Linked DNA regions of Homo sapiens. The protein of the gene in region 1 binds, or shares a complex with, the protein of each later gene. Each region holds a gene or a part of one and is shown in the gene's direction. Other genes may lie near its edges. The genes, in order: SMARCC2, DPF3, SMARCD1, PHF10, ACTL6B and ARID1A.

Region 1 (4,702 bases):
CCTTTTCCATGGGATGCAAAGGGTCACGGGAATCAGCCCCATGTGTTTAGCATCCTCTCTCAGCCTTTGTACCTAAGGCTGTAATTGCTGAGGGAGAAGAGATTATCCTTTTACTCAAGGAGTAGACAGGCTAATGTAGGGGAGTCAATAGAGAAAAATGGCTTAAAATTAACTTGCATGAAATTTTTAAACTTTGTCATCTTTGCCACATTTTTTCATTTTTGCCTCATAATTATCATCTTCATTTTTTTTTCCATTTCCACTTCATCCATTACAAAAATTAGGAAGAAGGTTATGTGGCTTGCCCAAGGTCACAGAGTACCAAATCTAGGATTAGAACCTAATTGTCCAGCTCCTAAGAGAACCTATAAAGATAATGTGAATATGTATGGATATCATGCCAACGACATGTCTTATTAATCATGAAGGGAACATGGAACAGTGGCATGAGTGCCCCCAGAGCTTGTGGGCCGCCCAGCATATGGTCTTGAGGCCTCCAGGGCCTTGGCCTGGTCATTTCCTGCCCAGCCTCCATGACGCCAAGCTCTGTCCCCCAGGGCCGCCAGGTTGATGCTGATACCAAGGCTGGGCGAAAGGGCAAAGAGCTGGATGACCTGGTGCCAGAGACGGCTAAGGGCAAGCCAGAGCTGGTAGGTGGGGTGCAGACCCTGCTGGGCTGCTCATTTTCCCCTTTATTGGGGGGCCCCTGCCCGGGAAGAAGAGACATGAGAGCAGAGGAACTACAGCAGTAAGGGAGGAAGTCCCACCCAGGGGTGTCCCTGGCTTTGGGAAAGAAGCTCCTTCTGTCTGTTTTTTCTCTCTGTCAGCCCCTGGCTCCCGGTGGTCACTTGTACTCACCTGTTTCTTTCCCTCCACAAATAGCAGACCTCTGCTTCCCAACAAATGCTCAACTTTCCTGACAAAGGCAAAGAGAAACCAACAGACATGCAAAACTTTGGGCTGCGCACAGACATGTACACAAAAAAGAATGTTCCCTCCAAGGTAGGAGGTGCGGGCCGACTCTAGGGGTAGAGAATGTTCGCTCCTCAGAGGTCACAGGCTCCTTTCTTCTCACCTGCCTGTGTTTCCCCTGCAGAGCAAGGCTGCAGCCAGTGCCACTCGTGAGTGGACAGAACAGGAAACCCTGCTTCTCCTGGAGGTAATTGGGGCAAAGAAAAGAGAGTTTTTCTCTGAAAACAGAAGTGGGCTCCGTGTAGAGGCTCACGCCTGTAATCCCAGCACTTTGGGAGGCCAAGGCAGGAGGATCACTTGAGTCCAGGAGTTCGAGATGAACCTGGGCAACATAGTGAGACTCCGTCTCTACGAAAAATTTTAAAAATTAGCCAGGTGTGGTGGCACACACCTGTGGTCCCAGCTACTCAGGAGGCTAAGTGGGAGGATTGCTTGAGCCTAGGAGGTCAAGGCTCCAGTGAGCTTCAGGACCAGCTCCAGGCTGGGGATTTGGGCCATTTCATTAACTTCATATCCTTTCTTAGTGCTACTTCAAGATCCCCCTTGGACCTAGCAGAGTACACAAATACCAGAACATAGAGAACTTTGAAACCAGCTGCCCTTAGTAGGATGGGGGGAGTCAGCCTTCGAGAAAAGTGGCTAAGTAAGCGGAGTTATGTCTCCACCACTACCACCAGGCACTGGAAATGTACAAAGATGACTGGAACAAAGTGTCCGAGCATGTGGGAAGCCGCACACAGGACGAGTGCATCTTGCATTTTCTTCGTCTTCCCATTGAAGACCCATACCTGGAGGACTCAGAGGCCTCCCTAGGCCCCCTGGCCTACCAACCCATCCCCTTCAGTCAGTCGGGCAACCCTGTTATGAGCACTGTTGCCTTCCTGGCCTCTGTCGTCGATCCCCGAGTCGCCTCTGCTGCTGCAAAGTCAGCCCTAGGTAATGGGGGTGGGTGGTTCCACCTGGCCTTCTTAGTTTGCTTTTGAAGGGCTAGTTACTCAGACTGTGAATCCTCTCAAGTTTGGCTGCCCTGCTGGCCTTGTCTGTGCGGGCCTCAGCTCAGGCACCTGTCTAGGCTCCATACTAGCTTAGATGAAGACATGGGCTTGTGAGTAAGCTTTTGCAGGGATTGCCAGAACTGTTCCACTGTGCCGCTCCCAGCCTCATTCTTTCTGGGTCTTGCAGAGGAGTTCTCCAAAATGAAGGAAGAGGTACCCACGGCCTTGGTGGAGGCCCATGTTCGAAAAGTGGAAGAAGCAGCCAAAGTAACAGGCAAGGCGGACCCTGCCTTCGGTCTGGAAAGCAGTGGCATTGCAGGAACCACCTCTGATGAGCCTGAGCGGATTGGTAAGGCCAGGCAGGTTCCCAGATTTCTTGCCTTTCACAAGATCCAGAGCTACCTGGCCTCCTGTGCCATTTCTGCCTCAAGTTGGCATTAGAGCACAACATGAATGAGAACATTGGTAGGGTTTTTATTTTCCCCATGAGTTTACCTCAGGGGCTCTGGAGCCCTACTAGTCCTCTCATGAAGATTTTGGGTAGAAAAATCTTTGCTTGTAGAAGGGGCTGTTAGAAAAGTCTTGTGAAGGCCGGGCGCAGTGGCTCATGCCTGTAATCTCAGCACTTTGGGAGGCCGAGGTGGGTGGATCACGAGGTCGGGAGTTCAAGACCAGCCTGGCCAAGATGCTGAAACCCTGTCTCTACTAAATATACAAAAATTAGCTGGGCGTGGTGGCACGTGCCTGTAATCCCAGCTACTTCAGAGGCTGAGGCAGGAGAATCACTTAAACCTGGGTGCCAGAGGTTGCAGTGAGCCAAGATCAAGCCACTGCACTCCAGCCTGGGCAACAGAGCAAGACTTCGTCTCTCAAAAAAAAAAAAAAAAAAAAAAAAGTCTTGTGAAGGCTGGGTGCAGTGGCTCATGCCTGTAATCCCAGTACTTTGGGAGGCTGAGGTGGGCAGATGGTTTGAGACCAGTCTGGGCAACATGGCAAAATCCCGTCTCTACAAAAAATACCAAAAAAGTTAGCCAGGCATGGTGGCATGCGCCTGTAGCCCCAGATACACAGGAGGCTGAGGTGAGAGAACCACTTGAGCCTGGGAAGTCAAGGCTGCAGTGAGCCATGATTGTGCTACTGCACTCCAGCCTGGGCGACAAGAGTGAGACCCTGTCACAAAAAAACAAAAAACAAAAAAAAACAGGTGTTATGGAGAAGCTGGGTGCAACGGCTCACACCCATAGTCCAAGCTGCTCAGGAGGCTGAGGTGGGAGGATTGCGTGGGCCCAGGAGTTTGAGACCAACCTGGGCAACACAGCAAGACCCTGTCTCTAAAAAAAAAGAAAAGTGTTAGACACAGACGACTGTGTATTAAACATTTCCTGTTTTCTTTCTTTTCTCATGGGCCCAGAGGAGAGCGGGAATGACGAGGCTCGGGTGGAAGGCCAGGCCACAGATGAGAAGAAGGAGCCCAAGGTATAGAGGGATTTCTGGAAGCTGCAGGGGCTGCGTGCAGCACTGTGGTGATGGGGAAGTTGGCCTTGTTCAGCTTAGGTGGGCAAGGGCTGGTTTTGGACGGGGTTGTCTCCTAGAATCAGATCACCTCCAAAGTAAGAGGAATAAATTTAGTTCCCCGTCTGGCCCCTCTGTGTGAGAACTAATCACCCTAATCCCTGATAACTCTCCTTTTCTATCACTGGAATTTCAGGAACCCCGAGAAGGAGGGGGTGCTATAGAGGAGGAAGCAAAAGAGAAAACCAGCGAGGCTCCCAAGAAGGATGAGGAGAAAGGGAAAGAAGGCGACAGTGAGAAGGAGTCCGAGAAGAGTGATGGAGACCCAATAGGTGAGCCTCCCACAAGGGTAGGTGGGGGTGCAGGACAGAGGTGAAGCTGTGGGGCTAACTCAACCCTTGTCCTGGCCCAGTCGATCCTGAGAAGGAGAAGGAGCCAAAGGAAGGGCAGGAGGAAGTGCTGAAGGAAGTGGTGGAGTCTGAGGGGGAAAGGAAGACAAAGGTGGAGCGGGACATTGGCGAGGGCAACCTCTCCACCGCTGCTGCCGCCGCCCTGGCCGCCGCCGCAGTGAAAGCTAAGGTGAGGCCAGACCTTGAAGACCTCAGGGAAGAAAATGTCCACTTCTCTAATCTCATCTCACTTAGAGGAAATCTTTCCTCACTCACACCTTAAATAATGCTGACCTATTTATTTTTTATTTTTATCTCAGGAGGAGGTAAAGTTAGTCATCCCTTCTCTAAGCTTTAAAAAATATATCACCATTGGGCCTGTTTTCAACCCTGTCAGTATTTGACTCCATGTTACCCTTTGCCACACTATCTCCATGTTCTTCTTTTGAGACGGAGTCTTGCTCTGTCAGATCTCGGCTCACTGCAGCCTCCACCTCCCAAGTTCAAGTGATTCTCCTGCCTCAGCCTCCCGAGTAGCTGGGACTACAGGCGTGCTACACCACGCCTGGCTAACTCTTTGTATTTTTAGTAGAGATGGGGTTTCACCATGTTGGCCAGGCTGGTCTTGAACTCCTAACCTCAGGTGATCCACCCGCTTTGGCCTCCCAAACTGCTGGAATTACAGGCGTGAGCCACCGTGCCCAGCCTCCATGCTTGTTTATTTATTTATGTATTTTTTGAGATGGAGTCTCACTCTGTTGCCCAGGCTGGAGTGCAGTGGCACAATCTCGGCTCACTGCAACCTCCACCTCCCAGGTTCAAGCGATTCTCCCA
Region 2 (4,702 bases), on another chromosome or scaffold:
TTAGTGCTTTGCATTTGATCAATTATATCAATGCTCCATTTTTGGTCTTTGAAAAGGACACTACCTTAAAATTAGTAGCATCACCACGTGTCCAAAAATACCAAAGAGTCAGGAACGTAAAATATACTGTGCTTAATCAGATTCTCAGTCTAGCAAACCAGAAAGGTCTTTCTATTTGTTTTTTAAACTCCATGAGTTGAATTATTTTGAATTTAAAATTGTTGAATTCTGTTTGTTTTCTATCGGAAAGTTATTTTTCTTTAAGTAATATGGTTTTAAAAGATTGGTGCCTGTTCCTCTACACCCCCTTCTTCCTGCAATTTCCCTACTTTTATAGAATGTTTTTTCTGTCCTAGTTTTTGTTTATATGGAGTGTTTCTCTTCTGTTGTAATGGAAAACTGAGTATCTTTGCTGGTGATTTGGGTTCACCTAGAGTGCCTTTGCTGGTGACCTCTGAGAATAAAATGTAGCTAATATGAGTGAGGAGGTTCTAGAAGTGTGATGTCCTCTAGATTCCATGCAGAAGGTTGTTCCAGAGCTACTTCCCTTCTGGAGTGGGACCTCATGCTTCCTAGAACATGGACAGCTCTCTCTTACTGGTGATTCATCCTTGGAAGCCCATGCTCTTTGTTAAAGGAGTTTCTAAGTTGCCTGGTGGATTTGGGATAGAAAATAAAATCTAGTCAAGACCTGACATTGAGTTGCATTCTGCTCATTGGCAAGGCTCTTGGTGCTCATTGCCTTGGTCTTCATAACTGGGAGGTCTTCAGTCTTTCCAGGGAGGTGTGTTTCCCTCTGGGTGTGTTTCCCTCTGGGTGTGTTTCAGTCTTCCCTGGCCTCACCCCTTCACTCTCTGACTCTGGCAGGCTCGGGGACCAGTTCTACAAGGAAGCCATTGAGCACTGCCGGAGTTACAACTCACGGCTGTGTGCAGAGCGCAGCGTGCGTCTTCCCTTCCTGGACTCACAGACTGGGGTGGCCCAGAACAACTGCTACATCTGGATGGAGAAGAGGCACCGAGGCCCAGGTGAGCTGCGCCACTCCTGGGACATGCGCATGTGCAGGCTCCCAGCCTGGAGGGAGGAGGACCGCAGCTTGTCTGGGAAACCAGGCAGCCTGGGTAGGATCGGGGTGGGGCAAGCTGCACATGGGCCTCTGAGATACCTTAAAGAAGCTCAGCTACTTTTATGGCTCCTGGCAGGTGTTTCAAGGAATGTGACAAGGATGGTGTGGGGCATTGAAGCCATGTGGCAGGGGTGGGGTGGGGTGGGGAGTGAAAGAGCTAAAGGTGTTTATCCCAAAGAAGGCAAGACTGAGGACATGACAGCAATCTTCATCTTTTACCTTTGGGTGTTGGTTACAAGCCGGAAATCTGCCATTAGATCTGGGTGTGAGGCTTACCTTTGTCACCAAACTTCTGTCCCTCAGGTTCCTCATCTGTAAAATGTGAATAATAATAGTACTTACCACATAAGATTTCGTCTGAATTAAATGAGAAAATTTATAAAAACTCTTAAATGAGTTTAGCACATAGCAAGTATGTGCTTCCAAAATGCTGGGTATTATTATTATTATTGTTATTTTTTTTTTTTTGAGATGGACTCTTGCTGTGTTGCCCAGGCTGGAGTGCAGTGGTGCGATCTCGACTCACCGCCTCCCGGGTTCAAGTGATTCTCATGCTTCAGCCTCCTGAGTCGCTGGGATTACAGGCGTGCGCCACCACACCCAGCTAGTTTTTGTATTTTTAGTAGAGACGGGGTTTCACCATGTTGGTCAGGCTGTCTCGAACTCCTGATCTCATGATCTGCCTGCCTGGGCCTCCCATAGTGCTGGGATTACAGGCGTGAGCCACTGCACCTGGCCTATTATTATTGATATTACTGTTATTACTACAGCTACAGTGACACTAGTCTTCTAGGCTGCAAAGAACAGAATAAAGACCTTTTTATTAGGGAGACAGCTACAGGAATGTGATTTTTCTGGCTCTGCCTGGATATGTTTTTAAAAATGTTTCATTTGGAAAAATTTCACCTTCATATAAAACTGAAGACAATAGTAAAACACATCCCCATGTAGCCCTGCTTCAACAATGTTCAACTCATGGTCAATCGTGTTTCATCTATACGCACTCCTTACTTTTCTCCCTGACCTCATTTTATTTTGAAGCAAATCCACAAAAGCACGTGATTTCATCTGTAAATATTTTGTTATGTATCTCTAAATGGTAAAGAACTTAAACAAACAAACACACTCACAATCACTATCAGAGCTCAAATAATTAGCAATAAGACTTTAATATCATCAAATATTTGGCCAACATTCATTTTTCCCCCTGTAGTTTAAATCAGGATCCAAATGGGAACCCTACATTGCAACTGGTTAATGTGTCTTTTAACATCTCTGGGTTTCTCTCTGTCTCTGCCTCTCTCTCTTTCCTCCTTGCATGTTACTTGTTGAAGACACTGGGTTGCTTACGCTGTAGGGTTTCCCAGAAGGATTTGGTTGCGTTCCCATGGTGTTATTACTGTGAATTGGTAGTTAGGTCTAGAGATTTATTCAGGTTCCATTTTTTTTTGGTAAGAACAACTCCTGAGTGGTAGTGTGTACTTTCATCAAGAGGCTCATACAGTCTGGTTACCTCTTTTACTGATGTTAGCAGCCCTTCATGATAATTGCCTAGATTCTTTATCCCATTAAGGGTTGCAAAAAGTTAATATTCAATCCAGGACTATCATTATATCTTCATTTGTTAGCTCTACAACTTCTATAAAGAAAAACATTCCCTCATTAAAATTTTAGTTATTGTGAGATACAGTTCACATATGAAAGGCAGGATAAATGACTTTTTTCCCCTCTATTTACCAGTTTTCAAAATAATGAGTTGGTTCCCTAGCATTCTCCAAAGACGATCAATATAATAATAATTATTTTTTTGAATACCACCAGGAACTCACAGATTTAAACATATTTGATGTATTTTAATCCAGTGTAGCTATTATTCTTATGAGGCTTATCTTGCCTCATCTCTGGCCATTCAGGATTCTGGCCAGTGCTGATGTGTTTTTTTTTTTTTTTTTTTTTGAGATGGAGTCTCACTCAGTAGCCAGGCTGGAGTGCAGTGGCATGATCTCGGCTCACTGCAACCTCTGCCTCCCGGGTTCAAGCGATTCTCCTGCCTCAGCCTCCCGAGTAGCTGGGACTACAGGCACATGCCACCACACCCAGCTAATTTTTGTATTTTTAGCAGAGATGGGGTTTCACCATGTTGGCCAGGATTGTCTTGATCTCTTGACCTCATGATCCGCCTGCCTCGGCCTCCCAAAGTTCTGGGATTACAGGCGTAAGCCACCGTGCCCGGCCCAGTGCTGGTGTTTTGAAACAACCCCAGTAGTTTCTGATGGCCTTCTTGCCATCCTAATATTAGGATGAAATATTTCAAGCTCATCCTGTACACTTCCTCCTCTCCAGGACTGAAATCAGCTATTTCTTGAAGAAATCCTGGCTCCTGTTTGTAGGAAAAGTTACTTAGAGACCGCAGTGCTGTTCATTGCTCCTGGCTTGGTCATTGTTTCTAGGCCTTATCAGTGACTAGAACTAAGAAATAGTATTCATTTGTTTTTTTCTTTTTCTTTTTAAGAGAAAATACATTATGAAATTATGTTGATACATCCCATTCAATTTAGATTTAAACAGTTTTTACTTAAGTATCTTAATTCTGTATCTCCTTTCTCCTACACCAAAAAATCCTAGAAATGATATTGATGTAATTACTTATTTGCTTTATTTTACACACACACACACACACACACACACACACACACACACAGACACTCACACACAGTATCAGAACAAACAATATGACTATTAACAATAAGATTACTGAAAAAGGTTTAAGATATTTTCTTTTTTTTGCAAGTCTTTTTGTCCTTAGGGTATATTCCATTAAACATGTGCAGCCAAATTACTCTCCTTTAAGGTCACTGAGATAGTTCCTCTGTGTGATTGTGCCACTAACTCAATACACAGTTGGATTTATTTGTTTCATTTTGCTTTCACTTATCAGGGTTTGCTTTTTGAGTGGGGAGGGGATTCATATAATTTCTTCTTTATTAAATCAACTTTTATCTTGAAATAATTAATAATTGCAATTGTGACTGTATTTGCAATTTGCAGTTGCAAATATAATAGAGATCCCCTATCTTCTTCATCCAATTTCCTCCAAGATTAATACATCTTACAATATCAAAACCAAAAAACTGACATTGGTAAAATGTGTATATGTAGCTTTATGCCATTTTATCACATGTCTAGATTTGTGTAACCACTTCTACAATCAAGATACAAAACTATTCTATTACCACCCAACACTCATTATTTAAATCCTTTTACCCTCCTCCCTTTATAATATAGTTGTCTTAAGCATTTCCTTTACATACATTGAAAACCATACCAGTGTTATAATTTTTACTTCAACCATCAAACATAATTTAGAAAACGTAAGAGAAGCGTTTATTGTATTTACTCATATTTTTACTCCTTCGTTGTTTTTCTTACTTACTGAAGTTCCAAGATTCCTTCTTTTAGCATTTACTTTCTGATGTAGTACTTTCTTTAGCCATTCTTTTAGAGTAAATCTGATGGTAACAACTTCTTAGTTTTCCTTCAGTGGAGAATGTCTTGATTTTGCCATCATTCCTGGAG
Region 3 (4,135 bases), 6.1 Mb from region 1:
AGCTGGGATTACAGTCACCCACCATCACACCCGGCTGATTTTTGTATTTTTAGTAGAGACGAGGTTTCACCATGTTGGCCAGGCTGGTCTCCAACTCCTGACCTCAAGTGATCTGCCCGCCTCAGCCTCCCAAAGTACTGGGATTACAGGCGTGAGCCACCACGCCCAGCCCATAGTACCTATTTTAATCAGGTTGCTATGACGATTAAATGAGGGAGTGTGTGTAAAGACTTGAGACTGTATCTGGCACATAAAAACAACAAATGGTAACTTCTGCTACTATTATTGTTATCTGGGTTGTTATTACTAGACGCAGTCCTTGCAAATAAAGCCAAAAGTGCTTTGGGAACATGAAGGAGAAAGGGAGGCTTTGCTGGAAGAGTTGATGCCCCAACTAAATCTTTTCTTTTTTTTTTTTGAGATGGAGTCTTGCTCTGCCGCTCAGGCTGGAGTGCAATGGCATGATCTTGGCTCACTACGACCTCCGCCTCCTGGGTTCAAGCAATTCTCCTGTCTCAGCCTCCTGAGTAGCTGGGACTACAGGCACCTGCCACTACGCCCGGCTAATTTTTGTATTTTTAGTAGAGACGGAGTTTCACCATATTGGTCAGGCTGGTCTTGAACTCCTGACCTCAGGTGATCCACCCGCTTCGGCCTCCCAAAGTGCTGGGATCACAGGCGTGAGCCACCGCGCCCGGCCCCAACTAAATCTTGAAGGACAAAGTGGGTGTTAATGAAAGGGCAAAAAGGATAGTAGTGCTGGGGGCATAGGAGGCAGAAGACGTTCCAGAAAGAGGGAATAGGGCATGTAAAGGTCCAGAGAAGAGAGAGAGAGCCTGGTGTCTTAAAGAAGTACGAGCCATTTAGTATGCTAGATGCAGCATAGAGTGCCGAGGACGGGATGTTTTGGGAAGGAAAGCTAGATAGGGAGCCAGATGCCTAATTATGAAGAACCTTTGATTCAGGGAAAACTGGTTTATGTTTCATCCCGAAGACTGTGTAAGACAGCTGGTTGAGAGATCATTACCAGTGGAGGGACTGATGCTATTTGTATATAGAATGATCACTTGCAGGAAGGTGGATGGAGAATAATTTGTCAAGAGGGCAGGGCTGGAGGCAGGAAGCCCAGTTAGGAGGCTGGTGCAGTAATCCATGTGAGACGTGTTGAGGCCCTAAATTTACAGTCCCGACAGTGAGGGTGGAGATAAGTAGATAGATTTGAGAGGTGTCAAGGTGGAATTGAAGGAATTTGGCCACTGTTTGGATTATTAGAGTGAGGGATGAATGAGAAGGAAATGTTATGATGCCTCCCAGGTCTCTAGCTTGGGTGGACAGTAGTATTTACTATGACTGGGAAGAGGGGAGGAGGAGGAGCAGGTATTGGAGAAACGGTAGTGAGTTTAATGTCAAGTTTAAGCAGTTGGATTGGTTGGAGTATAGAAGATAGACTCTGGGCTGCAGACTGGGGACTCATTACCCTGTCACTGGTAATGGAAGATATACAAGTCAAAGAAATTGCCGGGAGGAGTATGCAGAATGAGAAGAGAGTTGAGAACAAAACCCAGAGATGAGAGCTTATGAGACAGCCCCATATGCCAGTCCTTTTCTTCCTGAGAACACTTTTGGACCCATTTGTGCTGTGGAGTAAGTATTCATCATGTAGCTTTGCCCATAGTGGGCAATGTGGAGACCAAAAGGAAAGCTTTCCTCACATGGGGTATACAGAGAGACAGAAACAAGGGCAAATTACTTGCTGAAAGAATGCCAAGGGTCGGAGCAGTTGGAGCTCTATATGATGGTGCCAGCTGTGGGCAGCATGGTGACTAGGTTGGAAGTGGCATGTGGAGTTGTCAGGCACCACCTGCCATTTAACTTCTCATTTTTCTAGTTTGAAAATGGTATGAGCTTCGTTCTTCCTTTCAGATCCATGAGACAATAGAAACCATCAACCAGCTGAAGACTCAGCGGGAGTTCATGCTGAGCTTTGCCAGAGACCCTCAGGGTTTCATCAATGACTGGCTTCAGTCCCAGTGCAGGGACCTCAAGGTAAAGAACCTAGGAGAGGTCTGAAGGGACTTAGGTCAGTGAGGTGCACAGCTGCTTTATTCATGTAGCAGCTGGTAGGAGACCCAGAGGAAGGAGTGAGGGGCCAGATTTTTCTTTAGCATGTTCCAGGGTCCATTTTGCAATTAAGCAGGGAAATGGGGGCAGAGCCATCAAGTGTTGATTTAGTGCTTACTTTGTCTGTCACTGTGCTTCATCTTGTCAGGGATACAGAGTGGAAGACCTGATCTCTGCTTTCAAAGCAGCCTACATTCTGTCTGAAGAAACTAGGCTAGTATAGCCGGGCATGGTGGCTCACACCTGTAATCCCAGCACTTTGGGAGGCCGAGGCCGACGGATCGCTTGAGGTCAGGAGTTTGAGACCAGCCTGGCCAACATGGCGAAACCCCGTCTCCACTAAAAATACAAAAACTTAGCTGGGCGTGGTGGTGCGCGCCTGTAATCCCAGCTACTTGGGAGGCTAAGGCAGGAGAATTGCTTGAACCCAGGAAGCAGAGGTTGCAGTGAGCCAAGATCGTGCCGCTGCACTCCAGCCTGGGTGACAGAGCGAAACTCTGTCTCAAAAAAAAGAAACTAGGCTAGTATGATACAAAGTAGTAAACCACATAAGACATTATCAGGCCAGGTGCGGTGGCTCACGCCTGTAATCCCAGCACTTTGGGAGGCTGAGGAGGGCAGATCACCTGAGGTCAGGAGTTTGAGACTAGCCTGGCCAACATGGTGAAACCCCATCTCTACTAAAATAAAAAAATCAGCCAGGCGTGGTGGCGGGTGCCTGTAATCCCAGCTACCCAGGAGGCTGAGGCAGGAGAATCGCTTGAACCTGGGAGGTAGAGGCTGCAGTGAGCCGAGATTGCGCCACTGCACTCCCAGCCTGGCTGACAGAGTGAGACTCCATCTCAAAAAAAAAAAAAAAAAAAAAGACATTATTAGACTGACCAGGACCAATAAGATGATTCAGATAAGGGAGATCAGTGAGACTAGAATCTCTGGGGAAGGCTTCATGGAAAATTTGGGATTTGAAGACGTTCCCAGAAAGGGGAGCACAGTAAGCTCAGACAAGAAGATAGGAATGGGCACAGAGTATGAACTCATCCGTTGTCACCCCTCCTGTGCTGACTGTGACGAGTTAGAGAGGCTGAGCAGAGGAGCAAGGAAAAAGGGATGCCAGGAAAGATCCCTGAACAAGGCAACGACTTGTTGATTGCAGAGGTGACTGGGTGTTGTATCAGTTTGCTGAGGCTGCTGTAGCAAACTACCACAAACTGGGCAGTTTCAAACAACAGGCTTGTCTCACAGTTGTGGAGGCTGGAAGTCCAAAATCAGTGTGGGCAGCACTGCTTCCTTCCGCGAGCTGGGAGGGAGACTCTGTTCTGTGCATCTCTCAGCTTCTGGTACCTCAGGCATTCCTTGGCTTGTAGGTGGTGGTCTCTGTGTGACTTCACGTTGTCTTCCTTCTGTATGTGTCTGTCTCCATGTCTAAATTTCCCCTCTTTATAAGGGAACCTACCGGTCATATTAGGGGGTACTCTAATGACCTCATCTTAACTTGAGCATCTGTAGAGACCCTATTTCCAAATAAGGTCACATTCACAGGTACTAGGGGTTGGTTAGACTTCAACATTTTGGGGAAGGATACAATTTACCCAATAATGGGTGTGAAGGAAGGAAACAAGCCTTTTCTCCTCTCTCTTCCTCCACCCTGCATCTCCATTTCCCTCAGACAATGACTGATGTGGTGGGTAACCCAGAGGAGGAGCGCCGAGCTGAGTTCTACTTCCAGCCCTGGGCTCAGGAGGCTGTGTGCCGATACTTCTACTCCAAGGTAAGTACATGGGGTGCACGGGGGAAATTGACAAAAGGCACGGGGTTTTCACCCCTGATGGGGGTCAGTGGTGTTAGATACCAACTTCTGGTTTGTCTCATCTTCCACTCCCTTCACTATTTTCTCCTTAGGTGCAGCAGAGACGACAAGAATTAGAGCAAGCCCTGGGAATCCGGAATACATAGGGCCTCTCCCACAGCCCTGATTCGACTGCACCAATTCTTGATTTGGGCCCTGTGCTGCCTG
Region 4 (4,702 bases), on another chromosome or scaffold:
GTGGTGAGCACGTGGGGACTCTTCCTAAAGCCTTGATTCTTAGCATGGAATCAGTTTTGTGTTTCTCTTTATGTTAACGTAGGTTATCCAGGTACCTCAAGGGAAGTACAAAGTTTTGCCAACAGAGCGAACAAAGGTCAGTTCTTACCCAGTGGCTCTCATCCCCGGACAGTTCCAGGAATATTATAAGAGGTATTTAGTAGTTTTAGTTACAGTTGGTATCGGCTATTGGTAAGGGGTTTCAGAGCCTTTTGTACTTGCCTCCTAACAATTTTGGGGTCTATAGATATCACCGTAAGATATCGTATAGGATTTGTGTTGCTATTCTTCTCTGGTTCTGTGGTAAACAATACCCTGTAGTCAGAATTTGAATATATGCTGGTGAAGTCTAGATGCCTCTGTCTCTGCCCATTCTGTTTGGGTTTGTTAGAGACAGATGCTGGGGGTTCTGTAGCACCTCACTGCTCAGGGTATGTTCCGTGGTCCAAAGCACTGTTATTGCTCAGAAGCTTGTTGGAAATGCAGAATCTCAGGCCCAACTCTAGACCTATGACTCAGAGTCTGCATTTTAACAGATGTCTGTGTGATTCATGTGCAGGTTAGAGTTTGAGAAACACTGACTTTTACTGCAGAGAAGATGAGAGAAGGAGCGGAGAGGGGCAGGCATGGGCAACTGGGTGCCCCAGCCACATTGCTGACCTGGCCTGGCTGCTGCTCCAATATGGACCCTAAATGTTACTTATCTCCTATTCCCAAATTAAATGTAACTGAAAAAAACAGGGCTAACAGATTCTTTTTTTTTTTTTTGAGACAGTCTTGCTCTGTACCCAGGATGGAGTGTGGTAGTGTGATTTCGGCTCACTGCAACCTCTGCCTCCTGTGTTCAAGTGATTCTCCTGCCTCAGCCTCCCAAATAGCGGGACTGCAGGCACATGCCACCACGCCCAGCTAATTATTTGTATTTTTGGTAGAGGTGGGTTTTACCATGTTGGCCAGGATGCTCTTGATCTCTTGACCTAGTGATCCGCCCACCTTGGCCTCCCAAAGTACTCGGATTAAAGGTGTGAGCCACTGTGCCCAGCCCATTTTGTTTTAAAGTCTCAGCTTTTACTTCAACCTTAAGCCTTACTCTGGAACCGTATGTTTTTCATAATATACTATTTTTTAGAGAATAGAATTTAAAATATAGTATCATAACTCACACCATTTGAAAGTCAAATCTTGGGCAGAAATTTTTTAAATAAAAAAAGATTTTTTAAATTCAAATTTAAATCATGAGCAGCAATTTTTTAAAAGTTTTTCTTCAAATTTTTTTTTTTTTTTTTTGAGATGGAGTCTCACGCTGTCGCCCAGGCTGGAGTGCAGTGGCGCGATCTCGGCTCACTGCAACCTCTGCCTCCTGGTTCAAGTGATTCTCCTGCTTCAGCTTCCCGAGTAGCTGGGATTACAGGTGCCCGCCACCTTGCCCAGCTAATTTTCTGTATATTTAGTAGAGACGGGGTTTCACCATGTTGGCCAGGCTGGTCTCGAACTCCTGACCTCAGGTGATCTGCCCACCTTGGCCTCCCGAAATGCTGGGATTATAGGCGTGAGCCACTGCACCCGGCCTTTAATTTTTAAAAATTTTATTTTGGCATCAGCAAATTATTAAAAGTCATATGCAAGTATATTAACCCCTTTGCTTTTTGGTGTGTTGTCTTAGTTGGAGAAGTCTTCATCTAGGGTTGCCTCCTGAATGGGGGCTACTGAGGGTGAGAATGGAGGTGGCACGAAGCAGTGCTGTCTGACCTAGGGGAAGAGATTGCCAATATAGTTTCAGACAAAATAGATGATTAAATTTGTTAGAATACATGCTTCCCAAATTTGTTTACAATAATTGGTTACTAAAAATTTTGCTTTCTATGTTATTATTTTAAGTAATATCATGTACCATGCACTGGTGTGATATGTATGCATTAAATAAGTTAATGCATATATATCAACTGTATGCGGTAGATGCTATTATTAGGTCTGTTTTACAAATGGAGTGACAGCACAGAGAAGTAGCAAAGACCTGGGACAGTGGTCGAGGTGGATGTGAGCTGGCAGCCAGACTTGGGGCTGCTGACATTTTATTTACTTTTTTCTTTTTTTGGGTTGAGGGCAAAGAGGGGAGGCACATTATCTCTTAGTAAGAATCAAATGCATATTTTACATAAGTCTAGTGAAAAGATGTTCAGGCTTTTTATTAACCCTACTTGATGACAAAAATGAAAAATTAGTACTCTAGTTTTCAAAAGTCTTCGGGGTTACTCAAGAAGTTTAAGGCTATCTTCATAGGTCAAAGATGAGTCTGTTTATATTTAATAATAAAGGGAAACCAAAAATAAACTCTCTGAACTTCAGGTACTCACCAGATGAGCTGCGGTATCTGCCATTAAACACAGCCCTGTATGAGCCCCCTCTGGATCCTGAGCTCCCTGCTCTAGACAGTGATGGTGATTCAGATGATGGCGAAGATGGTCGAGGTGATGAGAAACGGAAAAATAAAGGCACTTCGGTGAGAACATTTCTCTCTAGTAGGAAGCATTTCCTTTCTCTTTGAATTTTTGTTACATTGAATTTCTGTCATCACCCTCTCCTTGAAAAAGGATGGTTGCATGTAATTTCCAGAAAGTATTCATCAATAAAAGTTACTTATAGTATGTTTTGATAAAAACAAGCAGTGAATGGCCTTTGGTAAGCTTTATGCTTAAAATCGCCCCTTTGTAGTTACCATGAGCAGTTTAGGCAAGGGTATGGAAAATTAGCTTACAATCATTTATTCAACTTGCTGTCTCTTTAGCTTAAAATATTGAACAAAACAGAATTTGATCTCTTGACACAGAAATGTAGTTTTCTTAGTTGAGGGGAGTGCATTTGCTTAATCTTATGCTTCCTATAGGAAAATATTATGTTTAGTAATATGTTGTACAATTTGTTGGGTTTTCCTGTATGACTTTTTTTTTTGTAGCAAAATGCACCTGCAAGACAGTGGGCAGTTGGTGTATTCTGTGCACCTGAAGGAGAATAAAATCCCAATGATGGTTTGGGGCTTTGATCCCAGTGATGACATAGGGCTTTGAATTTCTTTAGCATTGTGTTTTAAGTAACTGGCTATTTCAAACTTTTCATTGAAGCCAATGTAAATGTGAGATTGTGCTACCATTGAATGGACATTATTTCCTTGTCACCAACAGCTTCTAAAACATCTTTAATAATACATATTATGCAAAATAAGATACTGTTCAAGTATTAAAGTGGTGACACAACTTTTCTCCTGTCATGTTGCTAAAAGGGGAGCTATGGCATGCAAAGGGTGATGAAGCTGACTTCCTTTCATACTGCTAGGAAAAGTGTAAACTAATCCAACATTATGGGAAAGCATTTTGACAGTCTTACCAATTTAAGTTCCATAGTATTTGACCTAGCAAATCCACTAGTAGAATTTATCCTAAGGATTTAATCAGATGCTGAAAAATTTTAATTAGAAAAAAAGGTCCATTTGAGTGTTGACAGTATTTTTTATGCTGGAAGTTACAAATAAATTTTAATGCCCACAGTGGGTAATATTATATTACATTTATAGGATAGAAATGCAGTTCAAAGAATATTTAATGATTGTGAGAAAATGCACATAATGCTTTTAAAAAATACCAAAATACACATATGCATACACACACAGTGTAATCCAGTTTTGTATTTTAAAAAATGAGGGCACAATGAGGTAGGGGGTAATGTGTGAGTCTCGGTATCTTTATGTATATAAGTGGACACCCAGAAAAAAGATAAAGTAGATACATTCATGTTTCTAGTCAGTGTGTGTTTATCAGGGAGGCTCTAGATAACCTAATTTTTTAATTTATAATTTTTGTAATTTATATGAAAGTTCTAATTAGAACATTTTAAATTATAAAATGAAGAATTAAATGATCAGATACTGAGGTCTTAAACCTTGAATATATAAAATATTTCAGATCCTGTTGTAGATAGTTGAGGGATTGGCTCTGCATAGTTTAACATTGTGAAAACACAAATGTGTACTTGAAGGACTTTTTTTTTTTTTTCCTAACTGCAGCGCTTCATTTTTCCTGAAGGACCTTCTTAATGACTTTTAGTACTCAGTGAAAATACCCACACTTATTTGTAACAATATATTTTTGTATGAAACAAATATGTTCCCTTGTGACGGAAAATGATGTTGAAGCTGTGTGCCGTAATAGTAGCTGAAGCGGATAATTGTGTTTTTGTGACTTATGTCAGAAAACAAAGTTGATGAAGGCACTGATATGGAATCAGTTTTATATAATATACTTAGAAGAAGGAGGAATGATTTTTAACATAACTTACTTTAGTCTCCACTGGAAAAAGCTTTCTTACATTTAGAATGATCTTTTTATTTTTAAAATGATAAAGCTTTAAAACTTTCTTTGAATATTTTCCATAGTTTTCAAAATCCAGACTCAAATTTGTCTTAATTCCAAAGAATCTTTGTTTTTGCCTTTTAAACTCCAGGACAGCTCCTCTGGCAATGTATCTGAAGGGGAAAGCCCTCCTGACAGCCAGGAGGACTCTTTCCAGGGAAGACAGAAATCAAAAGACAAAGCTGCCACTCCAAGAAAAGATGGTCCCAAACGTTCTGTACTGTCCAAGTCAGTTCCTGGGTACAAGGTAGAAGAAAAAA
Region 5 (5,386 bases), on another chromosome or scaffold:
GAGTGGTGGCACACACCTATAACCCCAGCTACTTGGGAGGCTGAGGCAGAAGAATTGTTTAAACCCAGGAGGCAGATGTTGCAGTGAGTTGAGATTGCGCCATTGCACTCCAGCCTGGGCAACAGAGTGAGACTCCAGCTCAAAAAGAAAAAAAGAAATGTAAGCACTTTAAGAGATCCACTCAATTCTTCCAGACCTCAATGGACTGACCTAGGGTCACTTTGGAAAAATCTCACTCTCCCAGCTCCTGAGTCGGCCCTCTCCCCTACAGCTCACCACTCCTGCTGAAACCTGGACCCTTTCAGTCTTAGAAGCCAAGTCTGAACTTGGAACCAACCCTAGGCATTGAAATGCCACCGTCGTCAGTAGGTAATCCATGAGCCAGCTAAAGCCATCTGTCCTTTGGCCGGGGAGGGGTGGAGTCTCTTCCAGGGTGGGCATGTGGTGAGCAGAGAACCTTCAGGGGCACGCGGACCTCACATAGTATCCACTTCCTGTGCTATCTCTGGTCTCAAAGCTCCCTCGCCCCCAAACAAGTAGATGGGCATAGTCAACACACACAAGCATTCAGATGTGCATATGTACACACATGCACCCATATGCCAACACACATAGACACATACATACAGACACACACACACCCTCACATAAGAGTCCCTCACCTACCCCAAGTTGTCAGAGCTGCTCCTTTGCCTTTGCTACCAAAACTGTGGTACTGGGAGCCCAGAAGAACCTGGGATCCAAGCAGTAGAAAACCCTGTTGTTAGCCAGGCGCTGTGGCTGACACCTGTAATCCCAGTGACTGAGGAAGCCAAAGTGGGAGGATCACTTGAGGCCAGGAGTTCGAGACCAGACTGGGCAACATAGTTTTTTCTTAAAAAAAAAAAAAAAAAAAAAAAAGCCAGGTGTGGTGGTGTGCACCTGTAAGTCCCAGCTACTCAGGAGGCTGAGGCGAGAGGATCACTTGAACCCAGGAGTTCAAGGTTACAGTGAGCTATAAGTGTGCCACTGCACTCCAGCCTGGGTGACGGAAGACCCTAACTCAAAAAGAAAAGAAACAAAAACCCTCTTGTTGATAAATGCCTCCTCAGGAGAACAGGCGCTGAAGAGAGACAGATGGAGAAAGGAAGCTAAAGCCAGATGGGCTGAATGCCTGTGTGTGAACGTATGTACACATGTGTAAGCATGTGTACACATGTATAAGGCCTAGGTACTGCGGGGGGTGGGGGGGAAAGCAAGGCAAGGAAAAAAGGGGCCAACGAAAGACAAAGGAGGGAAGTTGGACACGGTGGCTCATGCTTTTAATCCCAGCACTTTGGGACTTTGAGGCCAGGAGTTCAAGACCAGCCTGGGCAAGGTAGCAAGACCCAGTCTCTTAAAAAAAAAAAAAAGGTAAAAACAGAGAGAGATGGAGACACACCCCCTTTGGTCCCTCTCTCAATCTTCCCTTCCCTCCCTCTCCCGGTGATTCCATTTAGACCTTGGTGATTCCATTTAGGCCTGGGTGTGGCAGAACCGGGCTCAGAGCAGCCTGAAGATAGATAACCCTTCTGGGAACTGGACCTCTCTCCCCAATCCTGCTTTAAAAAGTAAGGGGGTAGAGGTCGGGCGCAGTGGCTCACGCCTGTAATTCTGGCATTTCGAGAGGCTGAGGTGGGAGGATCGCTTGAGGCCAGGACTTCGAGATCAACCTGGGCAAAAGAGCAAGACCCCGTCTCTATAAAAAATTTTTTTTTAATCCAGGCGTGCTGGCACCTGCCTGTAATCCCAGCTACTTGGGAGGCTGAGGAGGATCGCTTGAGCTCAGGAGTTCGAGACCAGCCTGGGCAACATCACAAGACCTCCGTCTCTACCATAAAAATAAAAATAAAAATAAAAAGCAAGGGGATAGGGACCTCATCAGTCGTCCTGCAGAGTCCTGGTCTCCGCCTCTTCCCTGCTCTCCTCTCTGCCGCCAGTTCCTTAGCGACGGTCTCTAAGTCCCTGCTAGGTGCCCCCTGCCCCATCTCCTCCTGGCCGCTTAATAGAGTGTATCTTCCCCTTTAAAGCAGCTGCCCCCGGTCGGTCATTGTCTCGCCTGGCAGCCAATCGGCGGCGCCGTTGGAGCGGGGGATCCGGCCTCCCAATTGGCCGCTGAGAGTCCCGCCCCGCCAGGGATCCCGGGAGCTGTCCGGCCGCCTCGGTGCTGATCCCGCCACCGCCCACGGGCCGCTAGCAGCGCAGCGGGCACTATGAGCGGGGGCGTCTACGGCGGAGGTGAGCGAGCCTCGGGCCCCCGGCTCCCGCAGCCCTGCGTTCCAAACCCGCGCCATCCATCCGAGCTCTGGGCACCCCGGGGCCTGTCACCTCCGCGCACGAGCGGGTCGAGTCTCAGGCTCGGGTCTCCCGCCACCCCTGCGCTCGGTCCTCCCCAGACGCCCCGCGCGCACAGGGCCCTACCTTGCAACCCACCTCCACCTGGCCCCGGGCCCCTTCCTTTCCCGTCGGGAGGGTGCCCTGAGCAAGGCCATTGGGCAAGAAGGGACCCTGGCGGTGTGATGCCCCCACCCCCAGTCCCAGGACCTCGGACTCCAGGCCCAGCTCCCACCGGCCCCAGACTGGTGTTGAAAGTGGCGAGACTGTGGCTCTGCCCTGACTTTCTCTCGGAGCTACCTAGCGGGAGAGAGTTCGGGGGAGGTCCCCTTACAGGCCTGTCTCCCCGCACAGATGAGGTGGGGGCGCTGGTCTTTGACATTGGCTCCTTCTCAGTCCGCGCTGGGTACGCTGGGGAGGACTGTCCCAAGGTGAGCCTTCCAGTCTCCTCTCCAAATCCTAGGGGCTTCGGACCCTTCTTCAGGCTTTCCAGTGACCCAGGGCTCTCCCAGATCGCCCAGAAGCTCTGCTGAGCGGGAATATGGGAATAAACCCAGGGGCGGTCTGAGGACCCTGCTGTGGGGCTGGACAGGGGCAAGAGGGTGACCTCTCTCCCTGCCAATACTCCCCCAACCCTTCCCCACCAGGCTGACTTCCCCACCACAGTGGGGCTGCTGGCCGCGGAGGAGGGGGGCGGGCTGGAGCTGGAGGGGGACAAAGAGAAGAAAGGGAAGATCTTCCACATCGACACCAATGCCCTGCACGTGCCTCGGGATGGAGCGGAGGTCATGTCGCCCCTCAAGAATGGCATGAGTAAGGGGCCCCCACCCATCACCTCCTGACAGAAAAGGAGCCCGCTCCCCACAATCTGGGTCATAGCAGCCCCCACTCCCCGCGGAGTCTTCCTTGCAGCCCCAGGGTTCTTCTGGCTGCCAGGGTTCTTCTCGCTGGGTTCCCTTCCCAGGGGCCCACCAGGTTTCTGGGAAGGGGGGCGTTCCCCTGGAGCTGGACTCACTGACCCTCCTTTGGGCTTGGCCTTTCTCCCTCCTTTTCTTCCTGTCCCTGTCCCCTGCCTGCCTTCTTGCGTCTCTGCACGCTGCTCTTCTGGCCCCAGTCGAGGACTGGGAGTGCTTCCGAGCCATCCTGGATCACACCTACAGCAAACACGTCAAGTCTGAGCCAAACCTGCACCCAGTGCTCATGTCCGAGGCTCCGGTGAGTGCCTCCTCCATCCTCATGTCCAACCCTGATCTCCACTGCACCTCCTTCCCACCATCCACCTCTCCTCCTCTCCCCTCAAGCCACTGCTCTGAGCCACTTCCCTTCCCTTTTCAGACTCCCCTCACCCATCCCAAACAATTTCCTTCCTTCTTGGCTAAGTCTCCATCCCTCCTGCTCTCTTCTTGCTCTATGCACTCTGCTGCCCTTCTCTGTCTCCAAGTCCTTTTTAAATTTTTTTTTTTTGACACAGTCTCACTCCGTCACCCAGGCTGGAGTGCAATGGTGAGATCTCAGCCTCTGCCTCCCGACATCAAAGGAATCTCCTGCCTCAGCCTCCTGAGTATCTGGGATTACAGGCACCCGCCACCACGCCTGGCTAATTTTTTGTATTTTTAGTAGACAGGGGGTTTCGCCTTGTTGGCCAGGCTGGTCTCGAACTCCTGACCTCAGGTGATCCACCCGCCTTGGCCTCCCAAAGTGTTGGGATTACAGGCATGAGGCACCACGCCCAGCCTCCAAGTCCTTTTTTGACCTTTTCACTTATTATTATTATTATTATTATTATTATTATTATTATTATGGTCAACTTTGGTGAGCTGGGGATGTTGGCTCACACCTGTAATCCCAACACTTTGGGAAGCCAAGGCAGGAGGATCACTTGAGCCCAGGAGTTTGAGACCACCCTAGGCAATATGGCAAGACCCGTCTCTTTTATTAAAACAATAAAAATTAAAAATTTTTTGCCGGGTGTGGTGGCTCACGCCTGTAATCCCAGCACTTTGGGAGGCCGAGGCGGGTGGATCACGAGGTCAAGAGATCAAGACCATCCTGGATAACACGGTGAAACCCCATCTCTACTAAAAATACAAAAAATTAGCCAGGCATGGTGGCGGGCACCTGTAGTCCCAGCTACTCGGGAGGCTGAGGCAGGAGAATGGCGTGAACCCGGGAGGCGGAGCTTGCAGTGAGCTGAGATCGCACCACTGCACTCCAGCCTGGGCAACAGAGCGAGACTCTGTCTCAAAAAAAAAAAAAATTTAAAACCTCATTTAAAAAAATGTTCTTACCCACCTCCTTATAAATTCCTCTTTATAAAAGCAACTGTTTTTCTCCTTTTTAGCTAATGTTGGGGGTATTTTCTTCCATATCTCTAATACTACACTTAAATTGCTGCCTGTGGAGTGTTTAGTTTTAGGTATTATCGCTGAATTTTCCACTTTAGAAAATGATCGCTTAGCTCTCTTTTCCTCCCCAGCCTATGCCACACGTATTTCTTATCACCCTCCTTTAAGTACAGTGGGTTTTGTTGTTGTTGTTGTTGTTGTTTGGGGTTTTGTTTGTTGTTTGTTTTTGAGACTTTGCCTCAAAAACAGGGGGTCTGCTCAGTTTGTCACCCAGGTTGGATTGCAGTGGCACAATTCTTCAGCCTTGGTCTCCTGGGCTCAAGTGATCCTCTCATTTCAGTCTCCAGAGTAGCTGGAACTACAGGCATAAGCCACCATGCCCAGCTGATTTTTAAATTTTTTTTAGAGACAGGGTTTCATCATGTTGTCCAGGCTGGTCTTGAATTCCTGGGCTCAAGCAATCTGCCCGCCTCGGCCTCCCAAAAGGCTGGGATTACAGGCGAGATCCACCACACCCAGCCCAGTTGTATTTTAGACTTTAAAAGAAATCAGTATTCAGTATTTACATTCTTTTTAAATTAGAAATAATTTTAAGAGAATCTTTTGCAGAGATGGGGTCTCATCATATTGCCCAGGCTGGCTTCAAACTCCTGTGCTTAAGCGATCCTTCTACTTCAGCTAACAAAGTG
Region 6 (4,702 bases), on another chromosome or scaffold:
TGAAGTTGAGGAGTGACACCATGCTGGATGCTTTAGAACAGGAGCTCCTAGACTCCTAAAATGCATCCCAGATTTGGGACCCCCTTCCCACCCAGGACTTGGGAGGCTCTGACTGGAGCTCATGCACCAGCATTACAGGGTTTAGTAGGTTAGACAAGGTCCTTTGGCGGAGTGAAGAGAAATAGCCAGGGAAGCTGGCAATGACTCAGGGAATCACCAGCATGGTGATGTCATGGCCACATCACTCCTCTTTTCTACACGTAAAACAAAAACAAAGAGCTACAAAACCCTCAGATTCCCGTCTTTATGACCTGGCCTTGTAGATCCTCTGCTAAGAAGGGTGATCAGGCTTTAAAGGCCTTAGGAAGAACTTTCCCAAAGAGATTCTGGGTCGTTCGTGTGTTTGTGTGAGAGTTAAACACTGTCATGCCAAGCAAACTACTCAACTTGTATCTCTGTCCACAGCGGGATCAGGATCTATGCAGGGGCCCCAGACTCCCCAGTCAACCAGCAGTTCCATGGCAGAAGGAGGAGACTTAAAGCCACCAACTCCAGCATCCACACCACACAGTCAGATCCCCCCATTGCCAGGCATGAGGTAAGGCCAAGAGCAGGGGCAGATGGTTGGGAGGATGGCTGAAGATAAGTGCATGGGAACTCCTTGCAGCCCAAGGTGGTCCTTGCCTCTGCCTTCCCAGCCAGTGACTCCTGCGTGTCCTTTGTTATATTGGAGGAATTGGTTTATTTGTGGTTTACTTGGTTTTCCTCACTCTGGAGCAGGAGCAATTCAGTTGGGATCCAGGATGCCTTTAATGATGGAAGTGACTCCACATTCCAGAAGCGGAATTCCATGACTCCAAACCCTGGGTATCAGCCCAGTATGAATACCTCTGACATGATGGGGCGCATGTCCTATGAGCCAAATAAGGATCCTTATGGCAGCATGAGGAAAGGTGACTGATCTGATTGCTATTTGAACTTGTGCTCGTAAAGACAGGGCCAGTGAAATGGGGGGAAATCTTGAGAATGGCTCAGGGTTCTTGTGGAGCCATCCTCTGAGATAATGCATTTCCTGCCCTAACTACCCCTCTTCATCCTTACCTCCTTTCTTGTCTTCTCCTTGGCTTCACCTTGTCATCCCTTAATAAGTACATGCTTTTCGCTGGTTGGGGCCTCTTTAGATCTCTGTTTTGAACTTGTCTGGAAAACAATGAGATCAAACCTGAACTCTGAAGAGGGCCTGGGTCAAAGGGTAGATTACCAGGCTTGTCAACTTACCAGTTTGTTCACCGCTTGCCTTTCTACGCTCAGCTCCAGGGAGTGATCCCTTCATGTCCTCAGGGCAGGGCCCCAACGGCGGGATGGGTGACCCCTACAGTCGTGCTGCCGGCCCTGGGCTAGGAAATGTGGCGATGGGACCACGACAGCACTATCCCTATGGAGGTCCTTATGACAGAGTGAGGTAAGCATGACCCCAGCTCCTGTCCACTCCCCCAGCACCCTGAAGCTATAGTGGGCTCAATCTGCCTCTCCAATTTTGTTTAGGACGGAGCCTGGAATAGGGCCTGAGGGAAACATGAGCACTGGGGCCCCACAGCCGAATCTCATGCCTTCCAACCCAGACTCGGGGATGTATTCTCCTAGCCGCTACCCCCCGCAGCAGCAGCAGCAGCAGCAGCAACGGTGAGTAAAGCCTGGTCTCGGTGCTGCTATGGATCAGGCTTCGCCACTGCCCACCCTAATCCTGTGTTTCTTTGCCTCCTATAGACATGATTCCTATGGCAATCAGTTCTCCACCCAAGGCACCCCTTCTGGCAGCCCCTTCCCCAGCCAGCAGACTACAATGTATCAACAGCAACAGCAGGTGAGGAGGGTAGCTGGGAATGGACTGGCATGCAGGTTCGCCTTGAAAACTAGTTAGTAAACTAATCTAACGTGTTGAAGTCTAAGAAGCTCACTTTAGATATTTTGGCATTCTTCTCTCACCTGACTGGCCAGTCCTGCCTGAAGAGCCACGTCCTCAATCTCTTCTCTATTTGGAGTTGGAAGGGGCTAGAAATAGACCTTATTTTGATTTTTAGGTTTTGTATATTTTTCTACTTAAGCAAGGGAAGGGAAGAAAGAGTGGTGGTTGCTTTTGGAAACAACTTCAAAAGACAATTTGTTAAGGTGATTCCCATGTTTTCTTGGAGTCTGTGTCCACCAAGCATCTGGTTGTAGCCATCTTGGCATCTGTGGGCTTTATGTCCCTGAGTGCAGAGTATTAACTTCCCCTCTGCTTGTCTCTGCCTTAGAATTACAAGCGGCCAATGGATGGCACATATGGCCCTCCTGCCAAGCGGCACGAAGGGGAGATGTACAGCGTGCCATACAGCACTGGGCAGGGGCAGCCTCAGCAGCAGCAGTTGCCCCCAGCCCAGCCCCAGCCTGCCAGCCAGCAACAAGCTGCCCAGCCTTCCCCTCAGCAAGATGTATACAACCAGTATGGCAATGCCTATCCTGCCACTGCCACAGCTGCTACTGAGCGCCGACCAGCAGGCGGCCCCCAGAACCAATTTCCATTCCAGTTTGGCCGAGACCGTGTCTCTGCACCCCCTGGCACCAATGCCCAGCAAAACATGCCACCACAAATGATGGGCGGCCCCATACAGGCATCAGCTGAGGTTGCTCAGCAAGGCACCATGTGGCAGGGGCGTAATGACATGACCTATAATTATGCCAACAGGCAGAGCACGGGCTCTGCCCCCCAGGGCCCCGCCTATCATGGCGTGAACCGAACAGATGAAATGCTGCACACAGATCAGAGGGCCAACCACGAAGGCTCGTGGCCTTCCCATGGCACACGCCAGCCCCCATATGGTCCCTCTGCCCCTGTGCCCCCCATGACAAGGCCCCCTCCATCTAACTACCAGCCCCCACCAAGCATGCAGAATCACATTCCTCAGGTATCCAGCCCTGCTCCCCTGCCCCGGCCAATGGAGAACCGCACCTCTCCTAGCAAGTCTCCATTCCTGCACTCTGGGATGAAAATGCAGAAGGCAGGTCCCCCAGTACCTGCCTCGCACATAGCACCTGCCCCTGTGCAGCCCCCCATGATTCGGCGGGATATCACCTTCCCACCTGGCTCTGTTGAAGCCACACAGCCTGTGTTGAAGCAGAGGAGGCGGCTCACAATGAAAGACATTGGTAAGGAGATCTTCCTCATTCGGTTGCCTAATCTGCCCCTTTCCATCTTGTCCATTGTTCCCTCCACCTTACTATTCTGGATGAGGTTGAATCTGGTCCAGTGTTGACTAAAATAGAACCAAAGAACTTTGGAAAAGGAAGAAATAAGCTAACTAAAGGTTCTCCTTCATTGCCATGCAATGAAGTCCTAGACAGACAGCTTAGAAGCCATGAGGGGCTGGTGTGTTTCATCTCCCAGACAGAAACTGCCTTCCACCTTGTGTTATCTTCAGAGTAGCTTCACTGATGGGGCAGCCCTAGGGGTGCCTCCAGCCAACCTGGGCTTGGTGGATAGACGACATGGAGGTTTATTTCAGGAACCCCGGAGGCATGGCGGGTAATGATGTCCCTCAAGTCTGGTCTCCTGGCAGAGAGCACATGGGCATTAGATACCATCAACATCCTGCTGTATGATGACAACAGCATCATGACCTTCAACCTCAGTCAGGTGAGTATCAGTGCCTGGGGAAGATTGAGAGGGTTTGGGATCTTCTTAGTGTAGACAATGGGAATGTCTCATCTTTAGCCACCTTGGTCTTTCTCTTTCTCTCTTGTAGATATCTTCCATGCCAGTACTTTGCTTCCTTTGCCTCTGGGCACGGGCCCAGGATTTTGACAGCAATAATAATTTGTTTACATGATAACCTTAACACAGGATTGACTTCAAAAGGAATTTGGGAGACACTTTGTGGTATTAGTAAGAATTCAGATTCAATCGATGCCAGTGGGGACACCACATTTTCTAGAAGAATCTGTGTTTTTTTGTTTTTTTAATAGAGACGAGGTCTCACTATGTTGCCGAGGTTCATGAACTCCTGAGTTCAAGTGATCCTCCCAAAGTGCTAGGATTACAGGCATGAGCCACCAGGCCCAGCCTGAATCTGTGGTCAAATTTTTATCAGTGAGCAGAGTATGTTTTTTCCATTTTTCCCTTTCTTCTCTGAACAGTAGGGGCCTTTGTTGATCCCAGTTTTCCTTAGATGTAGAGTGGATGGGGGATTTGATTGTTTAACAATATTCTTTTTTTTTTTTTTTTGACTGAGTCTCTCTGTCGCCCAGGCTGGAGTGCAGTGGCGCTATCACAGCTCACTGCAACTTCCGCCTCCTGGGTACATGCCATTCTCCTGCCTCAGCCTCCCAAGTAGCTGGGACTACAGGCGCCCGCCACCACGCTCGGCTAATTTTTTGTATTTTTAGTAGAGACGGGGTTTCACCGTGTTAGCCAGGATGGTCTCGATCTCCTGACCTCGTGATCCAGCCGCCTCAGCCTCCCAAAGTGCTGGGATTACAGGCGTGAGCAACCGCGCCCGGCCCTACAATATTCTTACAAAGCTGATTCTTCAGACCCACCCTCCATAGGATGTGCACACTAGTGGAGGTGCTGGAAAGAGTTTGTGCTGCATCATCCTACTCTTTTTCTTTTGATCATCTTTAGTACCTACCAACCTGTATATCAAGGAGCTGACTTATTAATAGT

What was found.
Region 2: SMARCC2 (region 1) and DPF3 share a complex: the UniProt entries of both Homo sapiens proteins name them as parts of the BAF complex.
Region 3: SMARCC2 (region 1) and SMARCD1 share a complex: the UniProt entries of both Homo sapiens proteins name them as parts of the BAF complex.
Region 4: SMARCC2 (region 1) and PHF10 share a complex: the UniProt entries of both Homo sapiens proteins name them as parts of the neural progenitors-specific chromatin remodeling complex.
Region 5: SMARCC2 (region 1) and ACTL6B share a complex: the UniProt entries of both Homo sapiens proteins name them as parts of the BAF complex.
Region 6: SMARCC2 (region 1) and ARID1A share a complex: the UniProt entries of both Homo sapiens proteins name them as parts of the neuron-specific chromatin remodeling complex.

What each region holds. Positions count from the first base shown.
Region 1 is NC_000012.12:56,168,885-56,173,586, reverse strand, and holds part of SMARCC2 (SWI/SNF complex subunit SMARCC2), read left to right. Parts: intron 1-557; coding exon 558-650; intron 651-882; coding exon 883-1,002; intron 1,003-1,096; coding exon 1,097-1,159; intron 1,160-1,649; coding exon 1,650-1,908; intron 1,909-2,154; coding exon 2,155-2,316; intron 2,317-3,378; coding exon 3,379-3,443; intron 3,444-3,675; coding exon 3,676-3,811; intron 3,812-3,891; coding exon 3,892-4,058; intron 4,059-4,702. UniProt on the Homo sapiens protein: Involved in transcriptional activation and repression of select genes by chromatin remodeling (alteration of DNA-nucleosome topology).
Region 2 is NC_000014.9:72,768,059-72,772,760, reverse strand, and holds part of DPF3 (zinc finger protein DPF3), read left to right. Parts: intron 1-867; coding exon 868-1,028; intron 1,029-4,702. UniProt on the Homo sapiens protein: Belongs to the neuron-specific chromatin remodeling complex (nBAF complex).
Region 3 is NC_000012.12:50,094,927-50,099,061, forward strand, and holds part of SMARCD1 (SWI/SNF-related matrix-associated actin-dependent regulator of chromatin subfamily D member 1), read left to right. Parts: intron 1-1,923; coding exon 1,924-2,046; intron 2,047-3,787; coding exon 3,788-3,889; intron 3,890-4,020; coding exon 4,021-4,074; 3' UTR 4,075-4,135. UniProt on the Homo sapiens protein: Involved in transcriptional activation and repression of select genes by chromatin remodeling (alteration of DNA-nucleosome topology).
Region 4 is NC_000006.12:169,710,223-169,714,924, reverse strand, and holds part of PHF10 (PHD finger protein 10), read left to right. Parts: intron 1-82; coding exon 83-192; intron 193-2,385; coding exon 2,386-2,539; intron 2,540-4,533; coding exon 4,534-4,689; intron 4,690-4,702. UniProt on the Homo sapiens protein: Involved in transcription activity regulation by chromatin remodeling. Belongs to the neural progenitors-specific chromatin remodeling complex (npBAF complex) and is required for the proliferation of neural progenitors.
Region 5 is NC_000007.14:100,653,200-100,658,585, reverse strand, and holds the start of ACTL6B (actin-like protein 6B), read left to right. Parts: upstream 1-2,137; 5' UTR 2,138-2,231; coding exon 2,232-2,256; intron 2,257-2,706; coding exon 2,707-2,783; intron 2,784-2,999; coding exon 3,000-3,165; intron 3,166-3,466; coding exon 3,467-3,567; intron 3,568-5,386. UniProt on the Homo sapiens protein: Involved in transcriptional activation and repression of select genes by chromatin remodeling (alteration of DNA-nucleosome topology).
Region 6 is NC_000001.11:26,772,035-26,776,736, forward strand, and holds part of ARID1A (AT-rich interactive domain-containing protein 1A), read left to right. Parts: intron 1-465; coding exon 466-598; intron 599-777; coding exon 778-953; intron 954-1,311; coding exon 1,312-1,462; intron 1,463-1,545; coding exon 1,546-1,683; intron 1,684-1,767; coding exon 1,768-1,864; intron 1,865-2,294; coding exon 2,295-3,186; intron 3,187-3,542; coding exon 3,543-3,673; intron 3,674-4,702. UniProt on the Homo sapiens protein: Involved in transcriptional activation and repression of select genes by chromatin remodeling (alteration of DNA-nucleosome topology).